Linked DNA regions of Homo sapiens. The protein of the gene in region 2 interacts with the protein of the main gene of each other region in a biochemical or structural test. Each region holds a gene or a part of one and is shown on either strand. Other genes may lie near its edges.

Evidence for each region. Proteins that work in one complex are often made in the same cells at the same time.
Region 1: the proteins of TUBG1 (region 2) and PXN form a complex in vitro, tested with the Homo sapiens proteins (one study listed by BioGRID).

What each region holds. Positions count from the first base shown.
Region 1 is NC_000012.12:120,217,231-120,221,755, reverse strand, and holds part of PXN (paxillin), read left to right. Parts: coding exon 1-133; exon of another isoform or gene 134-441; intron 442-830; exon of another isoform or gene 831-1,664; coding exon 1,665-2,549; intron 2,550-4,525. UniProt on the Homo sapiens protein: Cytoskeletal protein involved in actin-membrane attachment at sites of cell adhesion to the extracellular matrix (focal adhesion). Recruits other proteins such as TRIM15 to focal adhesion.
Region 2 is NC_000017.11:42,612,683-42,617,788, forward strand, and holds the end of TUBG1 (tubulin gamma-1 chain), read left to right. Parts: intron 1-264; coding exon 265-391; intron 392-964; coding exon 965-1,051; intron 1,052-1,166; coding exon 1,167-1,316; intron 1,317-1,577; coding exon 1,578-1,730; intron 1,731-1,813; coding exon 1,814-1,975; intron 1,976-2,161; coding exon 2,162-2,359; 3' UTR 2,360-2,556; downstream 2,557-5,106. UniProt on the Homo sapiens protein: Tubulin is the major constituent of microtubules, protein filaments consisting of alpha- and beta-tubulin heterodimers. Gamma-tubulin is a key component of the gamma-tubulin ring complex (gTuRC) which mediates microtubule nucleation.

The DNA.
Region 1 (4,525 bases), on a different chromosome or scaffold from region 2:
TGCCATCACTGTGAACCAGGGCGAGATGAGCAGCCCGCAGCGCGTCACCTCCACCCAACAGCAGACACGCATCTCGGCCTCCTCTGCCACCAGGGAGCTGGACGAGCTGATGGCTTCGCTGTCGGATTTCAAGGTGCCCTGTGAACCCTCCATCTTCCCTGCCCTGCCGCCCCTCCCTCATCCTTCTCCTCCCTTACCTCAGTGTGGGTAGCTGGATCTTGGCATCTCAGTGTTTGGGTGCCTTGCCCCTGAGCCAGGGACACTGTCATGCCCTGGCCTTGCTGTGATGCCAGGAGATGGGGAGGGAGGGCCGGGTCAGCCTGCCTGAGGATTGCAGTAGCCAGTGAAGGCAGACAAGCTGGAGAAGTGCTCAGCTGGGACATTCCTTCCTCCCTGGGTGCTCCCAGCCTCTCAGGTCGAGGGGATCAGGAGGCTGGGACGCTGGGACAAAGAACCTTGTGTTGATGGCTGCTCTGGGTGGGGGAGGGCATTCTCTGCTGGGCCATGTGGGACTTGGGAGCCTGTGCCTGGGAGGTCATTTGCCCTGGAGCCCCATCTCCCACGCTAGCTGTCCTCAACACATCCTCTTTCTTTCTGCCTCTGATCCTGAATCCACAAGCCTCCCTTGCTACTCTTCTCCCATCCTTCCCTCTCGCCCTCCAGGGCCTCTGAGTTCCCACGAGCGTGTCTGTGGGAAACCATGGGGCCAGGCTTGCACGAGGTACCTGCCCTTCCCCTCCCCTGCTGGGCCTCCCCAGTCCTGCCAGGCCTGAGATGTTTAATTTAGAGGATTCAGTGTTTCCTTGGGGATTGATATTGACAGAACTCACCAGCAGCTGCTGACTTCATACTTCCACGTGGGTCAGCTGGAGACCTTTGGGGCATGACCTAGGGAATATGAGAGGGGAGTGAACGGTCCCTGCACCCTTGGCCCTGATGGTGTCTCCTAGCCTCCCTTCAGCTGAGGTTTCATGGTGGGAGACAGGAGTGTGGCTGGGGTGGAGGGTTGAGCCTGGCCCTGTGACCCTTGCGTGCTATAGTTCCAGCTCCAGGCCAGTGGTTCTGAGCAGCCATGGTCAGAAGCAAGTAAGTTGGATTCAGGGCCTGGCCTGAGGGAGCTGTGCCCCGGTGCTTTTAAGGCTGCCGTTTTCTCAGACAGCCTGTGTCCTGATGCCAGGAGAAGCAGCAGTGGTTTTAGTCAGATCCCTGGAGCAAGGATGTGGAAGACGTAGAGGACTTGGGGTGTAGGAAAGCTGGGATTGTCCGGAGGGACATGGCCGAGTTGGGCCAGTGTCCGAGGCGGGTTCAGCAGCCCCTGGGGCTGGCTCTCCCTCCATTTGTGCCTGGGGCTGTCTTCCGTAGCCACCTGGCTCCCCATTTGTCCACCTTACCGTGGTCTTTTCTTTCTCATACCCTCCCTGGGTGGCTCCACAGGCACGGCTTGGTGGCTGCTTTCTCTTGCTTGGGTTTGGTGAGGGCTAAGCACGCAAAGCCCAGGGAAGCTTTTTTGGGGTCTGGGTCTCCTTCAAGGGTCAGTCCTGTGCGTCAGCTTTGCAGCCACCTTGGTCAGCCCTAAGGCCGAGCCCACCGCCTGCAAGGTGCAGCCGTCCTCACTCCCCTCATCTCTCTCTCTCCTCTCCCCTCTGCATTTCTCTCTTCTCCAGACCAGCTCCTCCACTGTGGCTCTGAGTGCCCCGGGGCTGTCCAGCTCTGCTCCGTCCTCATACTGCTCCCTTCCTCCTTCTCCTCCTCCCATGCCATCTGTATTTCTGCCACCCACCACTATACCCTCCCCTCGAGGCCAGGGCCACACTCCGGAGTTCCCTTGTACTGAGCAGAGTGGACGAGGCCTTCTACCTCCTGTAGCCCCCAGCTGGCTTGATTTGGCTGGTCTTGGGGTGATGCCTGACACCTTCAACTCAAGGTCTCCCTCTGTGGAGGGTTCTCTGTGGGCAGTGGGCACAGAGAGTCAGGGTCGAGATTGGAGGCACCTGCCGACCATCACAAGTGAGCTCTCTGGGGCTCCCCGCTGCCACACTGTACCCTGTGCTGGGAGCACAGCTCTCCAAGAGCCTGGGGAGCCCCAGGGGCCACCAGCCAGCCCTTCGTGCCCAGAGGAGGCCTTGGCTGCCACATGGGAGCAGCCATGGGCTTCGGAGGTATTCGGGCCTGAGAGAATGCCCCCCTCTGGAGCTGCTCGAAGCTTCCAAGAAGTAACAGAGCCAGCTGTAGTGGCAGTGGACCGGCAGGCCATCTTCCCAGATACCTGGACTCTCACGGAGGAACATGGCCTACAGCAGGAGAGGCCAAGGCCAGAGCCAGGGAGGCTGGGAAGCAGCTCCCCTGCCTCAGTTACCACGGAGCAGCTAGGTGCAAAGATGACCGAGAGGGGAAGTGTGGCCAGGCCAACCCAGGGACCTGAAACCCCAAGGAGCCCAGAGGGCACCACGGAAGCTGCCACCCAGGACGGGAAGGAACAGCCAGAGCTTCCATGTGCCATGGCCATGGGCACACCCAGCACCACGGAGAGGATTTCCACCTCTGGCCAGGCAGGCACCAGCTCGCATGGCTGCTGGGCATGGCCATTGGCGGGTCTGAGTGTGGGCCGCTCCTCGCTAACTGCATGCAGCCTCCCACTCTGCGCATGTCTGCTTGGGCAGAAAATGCTGAGACACTGTGGCCGGACCTGACAGTCAGCACTTGGCAGTGGGCTCTGTGGACCCAGCATTTCTCATAGCGTCAACCCACCTCTTGCCTTGTTGAGGCTTTTTCCTTTCAGATGAGCTGTCCTTGACATTCTGATGTGGTGAAATGGTTAGCAGCATGGACTTTGGAACCAGATAGACCTAGATACAAACCACATGTCTAACACTTGCTACCTCTGTGACCTTGGGCAACCCCCTCCCTCAGCCTCAGTTTTCTCATCTGTAAAGTGGGGAGAATTTCCATCAAGATTGTCCGGAGACCTAAATGAGATAATTCCTGGAAAGTGTTTAGAACACAGCATGTGGTCCCTCAATAGGCCGTGGCTGACAGTACTTTTATTACTTGCTTTTTGCTTAAATTAAAACTTTATGCCGGGCCAGGTGTGGTGGCTCACGCCTGTAATCCCAGCACTTTGGGAGGCCGAGGCGGGCGGATCACCTGAGGTTGGGAGTTCGAGGCCAGCCTGACCAACATGGAGAAACCCCATCTCTACTAAAGATACAAAAAGATTAGCTGGGCATGGTGGCGCATGCCTGTAATCCCAGCTACTCAGGAGGCTGAGGCAGGAGAATCACTTGAACCCAGGACGCAGAGGTTGCGGTGAGCCAAGATCATACCATTGCACTCCAGCCTGGGCAACAAGAGTGAAACTTGGTCTCAAAAAACAAAAACAAAACAACAACAACAACAAAAAACTTTATGCCTCACCCTGGCACAGTAGCTTATACCTGTAATCCTAGCACTTTGGGAGGCTGAGGCAAGAGGATCGCTTGAGCCCAGGAGTTTGAGACCAGCCTAGGCAACACAGTGAAACCCTGTCTCTACAAAAAATTAAAGATTAGCTGGGCGTGGTTGCACATGCCTATAGTCCCAGCTGCTGGGGAGGCTAAAGCAGGAGGATGGCTTTAGCCCAGGAGTTTGAGGCTGCAGTGAGTTGTGATCGCACCACTGCATTCAGCCTGAGCAACAGATCAAGACACTGTCTCAAAAAAAAAAAAAAAAAAAAATCCCCCAAGCTTTATGCCTCTTTGGAAAACAAAACGAAACAACCAAAAACCCCCAAAACACTACCAACAAGTATAATAGCATAATATAATATTAGCATAATAATATAAATAAGAAAAAAAAAACTAGTTAAAAAAGTTCCTGGCTAGCTGAGCACGGTGGCTCACACCTGTATTCCCAGCACTTTGGGAGGCCGAGGCAGGCAGATCACGAGGTCAGGAGTTTGAGACCAGCCGAACCAACATGATGAAACCCCATCTCTACTAAAAAAAAAAACAAAAAACAACAACAACAAAAATTAGCCAGGCGTGGTGGTGCATGCCTTTAATCCCAGCTACTCAGGAGGCTGAGGCAGGAGAATCTCTTGAACCCAGGAGGCGGAGGTTGCAGTGAGACCAGATCGCGCCACTGCATTCCAGCCTGGGCGACAGAGCGAGACTCTGTCCCCCCCCAAAAAAAAGTTCCTGGAAGGAAACACTTTTTCTATTATAAATTAAAAAAAAGAAAAAAGAAAAAGCCGTATGCCTTGTCAAGGGCATGCACTTACATCCTCTGGAATAATTCTTGTGCAAACCCTGTGCGGTAAGCCAAGAAAATCTTGTGGTTCCATTTTAAGGAAGGGGAAGCTGAGGCCCATGGCAATTAAGTGTCTTGCCCAAGGTCAGTGGCCAACTTAGAGGTGAATGCTGGGTCAGAGGTCTCGCTCGCAGCCTGTGCTTCTGGAGCCAGTCCGATCTGCCCCCTCCCCTTGCCTCTACCCACCTCCACCGGTCCAATCTGCCCCCTCCCCGTGCCTCCACCCACCTCCGCTTGG
Region 2 (5,106 bases):
GAACTGGAGCCTAGAACCTGAGCCCTGGATGAAAGTCGAGGGAGTGTGGCCAGGTCTCAATTTGGAAGCCCAGAGTCTAAGATGTCTCTGCCCTTCCCCCTGTAGGGCTACAGACTTCCAAAAGTCAAGGCTCCCTTCTCTACTGATTTGACCCCACCCCAGTTTCGCCATCAAGATTTATCTGCTTCTGGACAGTTGTTAGGGAGCGCCATGTTCACCAGGCCTTCGGTCTGTTGCCCTGATCCTTTCCCCAACCCCCACCAGGTATCCTAAGAAGCTGGTGCAGACATACTCAGTGTTTCCCAACCAGGACGAGATGAGCGATGTGGTGGTCCAGCCTTACAATTCACTCCTCACACTCAAGAGGCTGACGCAGAATGCAGACTGTGTGGTGAGTCCTGGATTCTACCTCTCCCAACTCTCAACACCCCATACCCACTCGAGTCTATTAAATCATTTTCATGTATTTAAAAAAAATCCATTTTAGCCAGGTGCAGTGGCTCATGACTGTAATCCCATCACTTTGGGAGGCCAAGGTCGTTGGATCGTTTGAGTTTAGGAGTTCGAGACCAGCCTGGGCAACATGGCGAAACCCCATCTCTACTAAAAATACAAAAATTAGTCGGGAGTGGTGATATGTGCAGAAGGATCACTTGTGCCTCAGAGGCAGGGGCTGCAGTGAGCTGAGATCATGTCACTGACTGCACTCCAGCCGGGGTGACAAAGTGAAACCCTGTCTCAAAAAACAAGAACAAAAAAAAAAACTGTTTAAATAATTAAGATGAAAAGAAAAATTTAAAAATCCATTTTGAGCCCTCCTTTGCCCTAGGTCAGTGCAAATCTCTTTCCAGTGAGTCTTTCTGGCCATGAAGCTCAAAGGAAATTAAGCTTCAGAGCCTAGGGTCAGGCAGAGCTCCTGTTTTTCTTATCCCCATTGATCTGTGATCCTCTTCTGTCCCCCCAGGTGGTGCTGGACAACACAGCCCTGAACCGGATTGCCACAGACCGCCTGCACATCCAGAACCCATCCTTCTCCCAGATCAACCAGCTGGTGGGCCCCCACTCCTGGACTCCTTTGGACTTGAAGCCCTCCTTGTTGGAGGGTCATTTGGGGAAGGGAGGTCCCACCCAGGCTGAGGCCCATAACATGGCACGCCTGTCCCCAGGTGTCTACCATCATGTCAGCCAGCACCACCACCCTGCGCTACCCTGGCTACATGAACAATGACCTCATCGGCCTCATCGCCTCGCTCATTCCCACCCCACGGCTCCACTTCCTCATGACCGGCTACACCCCTCTCACTACGGACCAGTCAGTAAGAGCAGCCTTCAGTGTCCCAGGCCAGGCCGGCCCTGGGCCCAACAGGCCCTGTCCTAGCCTTTCTCTCTTCCCCACTGCCCCAGGAGCTACCCTTTGTGGACCCCAAGGCGCGGCGCTCAGGGACTGGCACAGAGTGGGCGACTTTCTTGCTGACTTGCTCTCCACCCTCCCTCTGCCTTTGGCTTCTGCCAAAGAGAAGCCAAAGGGGGACTGTGCCCTGAGCGCTGGCCGGGTCCCTGTCTCACTGTCCTATCAGGTGGCCAGCGTGAGGAAGACCACGGTCCTGGATGTCATGAGGCGGCTGCTGCAGCCCAAGAACGTGATGGTGTCCACAGGCCGAGACCGCCAGACCAACCACTGCTACATCGCCATCCTCAACATCATCCAGGGAGAGGTGGACCCCACCCAGGTAGGGGAGGCCCCTTCATCCCACACCCTGGACCTGCAGGGGTAGAGGAGAGGCCACCTCCACTGCTCCTATGCCCACCCCAGGTCCACAAGAGCTTGCAGAGGATCCGGGAACGCAAGTTGGCCAACTTCATCCCGTGGGGCCCCGCCAGCATCCAGGTGGCCCTGTCGAGGAAGTCTCCCTACCTGCCCTCGGCCCACCGGGTCAGCGGGCTCATGATGGCCAACCACACCAGCATCTCCTCGGTGAGTCTCAAAGTTTGCACCTTTTTTCCCTGAATCAGTTTCCTGACTATACCTCACCTCTCTGCATCTGCTGGCCCTGCTTCTAGCTTTTTTGCTGTGGGCATAGCCCAGCCTTGGTTCCCCAGCTTTCTGGGCCACGTTATTCTTTGAAGTTCTTTGTAACCCCTGTTTTCTGCACACCCCAAGCTCTTCGAGAGAACCTGTCGCCAGTATGACAAGCTGCGTAAGCGGGAGGCCTTCCTGGAGCAGTTCCGCAAGGAGGACATGTTCAAGGACAACTTTGATGAGATGGACACATCCAGGGAGATTGTGCAGCAGCTCATCGATGAGTACCATGCGGCCACACGGCCAGACTACATCTCCTGGGGCACCCAGGAGCAGTGAGTCCCCCAGGACAGGGACCCTCATCTGCCTTACTGGTTGGCCCAAGCCCTGCCTGACTGACCACCCCCTCAGAGCACAGATCAGGGACCTCACGCATCTCTTTCTCATATACATGGACTCTCTGTTGGCCTGCAAACACATTTACTTCTCCTCTTATGAGACTATTTATCTTTAATAAAGCACTGGATATAAATCAAGTCACTGCTCCCTTTAAAGCCTTTGGGTTCTGGAGATGCGGTGGGGATGCCTGTTCTTTCTCCATCATTCTGACAGGGTCCTCACCCACTTCCAGCATCTTCAATTCTGAACCAACAGCTTCCCCTAGGTTTTTCCTCTGCCTAGTTTTGGAGAACGCTGGTGGGGTTTGACCCACCTGAAATTCCTTTCCAGGGTAAAAAGGCCCAGAGATATTACTTTGTTCTCTGTCTGACCCTTTCTGGGTCCCCGTTCCCTCCCACCCTCACTGTATCAGGTGAATATTCCACCAGCCTCATGTTTCCACATCAGAGTGTCTGATTAATCACAACCTGAGGCCCAAGGCCACCACCACTGCCACTAGGCCATGAACAAGCAATGGAGTCCAACCCAATACCTTTAAGCTTCTAGCAAGCAGTCCAGGAGAGCCGCTCGTTTCAGGCAGTTGGAGTCTAGCAGCATCAAGTCAGCGACCAAATCTAAAACCTAGACTGTAAGCAGGATCATAAGTGGTTCCATAGCTAAGGCACCGTAATTCTCTTCTCTAGTGGTTGCCAGTAATTTAAATGGCCAGTGCCTTCTACTTCTGGTGGAAGATTGCAGGGAGGTAGTAAATACATAGGGGCCTAAGTCTTCAGGATTGTTTTTTTTTTTTTTTGAGATAGGGTCTTGCTCTGTCGCTTTGTCACCCAGGCTGGAATGCAGTGGCATAATCACGGTTCACTGCAGCCTCGACCTCCCTGGCTCAGGCGATCCTCCTGTCTCAGCCTCTTAAGTAGCTGGGATCACAGGCACACACCACCTAAATCTTCAGGATAAAAAGGGCAAAGCAGGTTCTCCTTAGAGCATGGTGGGTTGTCAGGGCCCCATTAGGCTCTTATACACACCATAAAGTTATATAGTAGTGACAGCTAACACGCACACATACGCTGTGAGAAGTACATTATTTTGTTGAATCCTCACAACAACCCTATGAAGTGGTAGATACTAATTTTTTTTTTTTTGAAATGGAGTCTGGCTCTATTCCCCAGGCTGGAGTGCAGTGGCATGATCTCGGCTCACTGCAAGCTCCACCTCCCGGGTTCCAGCAGTTCTCCTGTCTCAGCCTCCCAAGCAGCTGGGACTACAGGTGCCCGCCACTGCGCCTGGCTAATTTTTTTGTATTTTTAGTAGAGACGGGGTTTCACCGTGTTAGCCAGGATGGTCTCGATCTCCTGACCTCATGATCCACCTGCCTCGGCCTCCCAAAGTGCTGGGATTACAGGTGTGAGCCACCGCACCCGGCTGGTAGATACTAATTTTTAAAATACAATAACAAGGCCGGGTGCGGCGGTTCACGCCTGTAATCCCAGCACTTTGGGAGGCCAAGGCAGGCGGATCACCTGAGGTTAGGAGACCAGCCTGGCCAATATGGTGAAACCCCATCTCTACTAAAAATACAAAAAGTTAGCTGGGCATGGTGGTGCATGCCTGTAATCCCAGCTACTCAGGAGGCTGAGGCAGGAGAATCGCTTGAACCTGGGAGGCGAAGGTTGCAGTGAGCCGAGATTGCGCCACTGCACTCCAGCCTGGGTGGCAGAGCAAGACTCCGTCTCAAAAAAAGAAATAAAAGTAAAACAATAAGGCCGGGTGTGGTGGCTCACGCCTGTAATCCCAGCACTTTGGGAGGCTGAGATGGGCGTATCACAAGGTCAGGAGATCGAGACCATCCTGGCTAACATGGTGAAACCCTTTCTCTACTAAAAATACAAAAAAAAAAACAAATGAGCCAGACATGGTGGCAGGCGCCTGTAGTCCTAGCTACTCGGGAGGCTGAGGCAGGAGAATGGCGTGAACCCAGAAGGCGGAGCTTGCAGTGAGCCAAGATCGCGCCACTGCACTCCAACCTGGGCAACAGAGTGAGACTTTTGTCTCAAAAAAATAATAAAAATAACAATAAAAGTACAAATAAAAACCAATACAGTATAACAATGATTTACAAGCATTTACCTTGTATTAGGTACTACAAGTAATCTAGAGATGATTTAAAGTACTGTACAGGAGGATGTGCATAGGTTATGTGTAAATTCTACACCATCTTATATATTTTCTTCTTTCTGTTTTTTTTTTTTTTTTGAGACAGTCTCACTCTGTTGCCCAGTGCAGTGCAGTGGTACCATCTCGGCTCGCTGCAACCTCTTCCTCCCAGGTTCAAGCAATTCTTGTGCCTCAGCCTCCCTAGCAGCTGGGATACACACATGCGCCGCCATGCCCAGCTAATTTTTGTATTTTTTGTAGATATGGGGTTTCTCTATGTTGGCCAGGCTGGTCTCGAACTCTTGACTTCAAGTGATCTGCCCACCTTGGCCTCCCAAAGTGCTGGGATAACAAGCATGAGCCATGGCCATATTTTATTTTTTCTAAACCATTTTATTTAATTAAGGATCTGCAGATTTTGGCATCCTTGGGTGTCCTGGAACCAATACCCTGTGGGTACCAAGAGACAACTGTACTTGCTCACTATTGGCCTAGGAATGTACTTTTCCTTCTATGAACCTGTTTATCTTTCATGG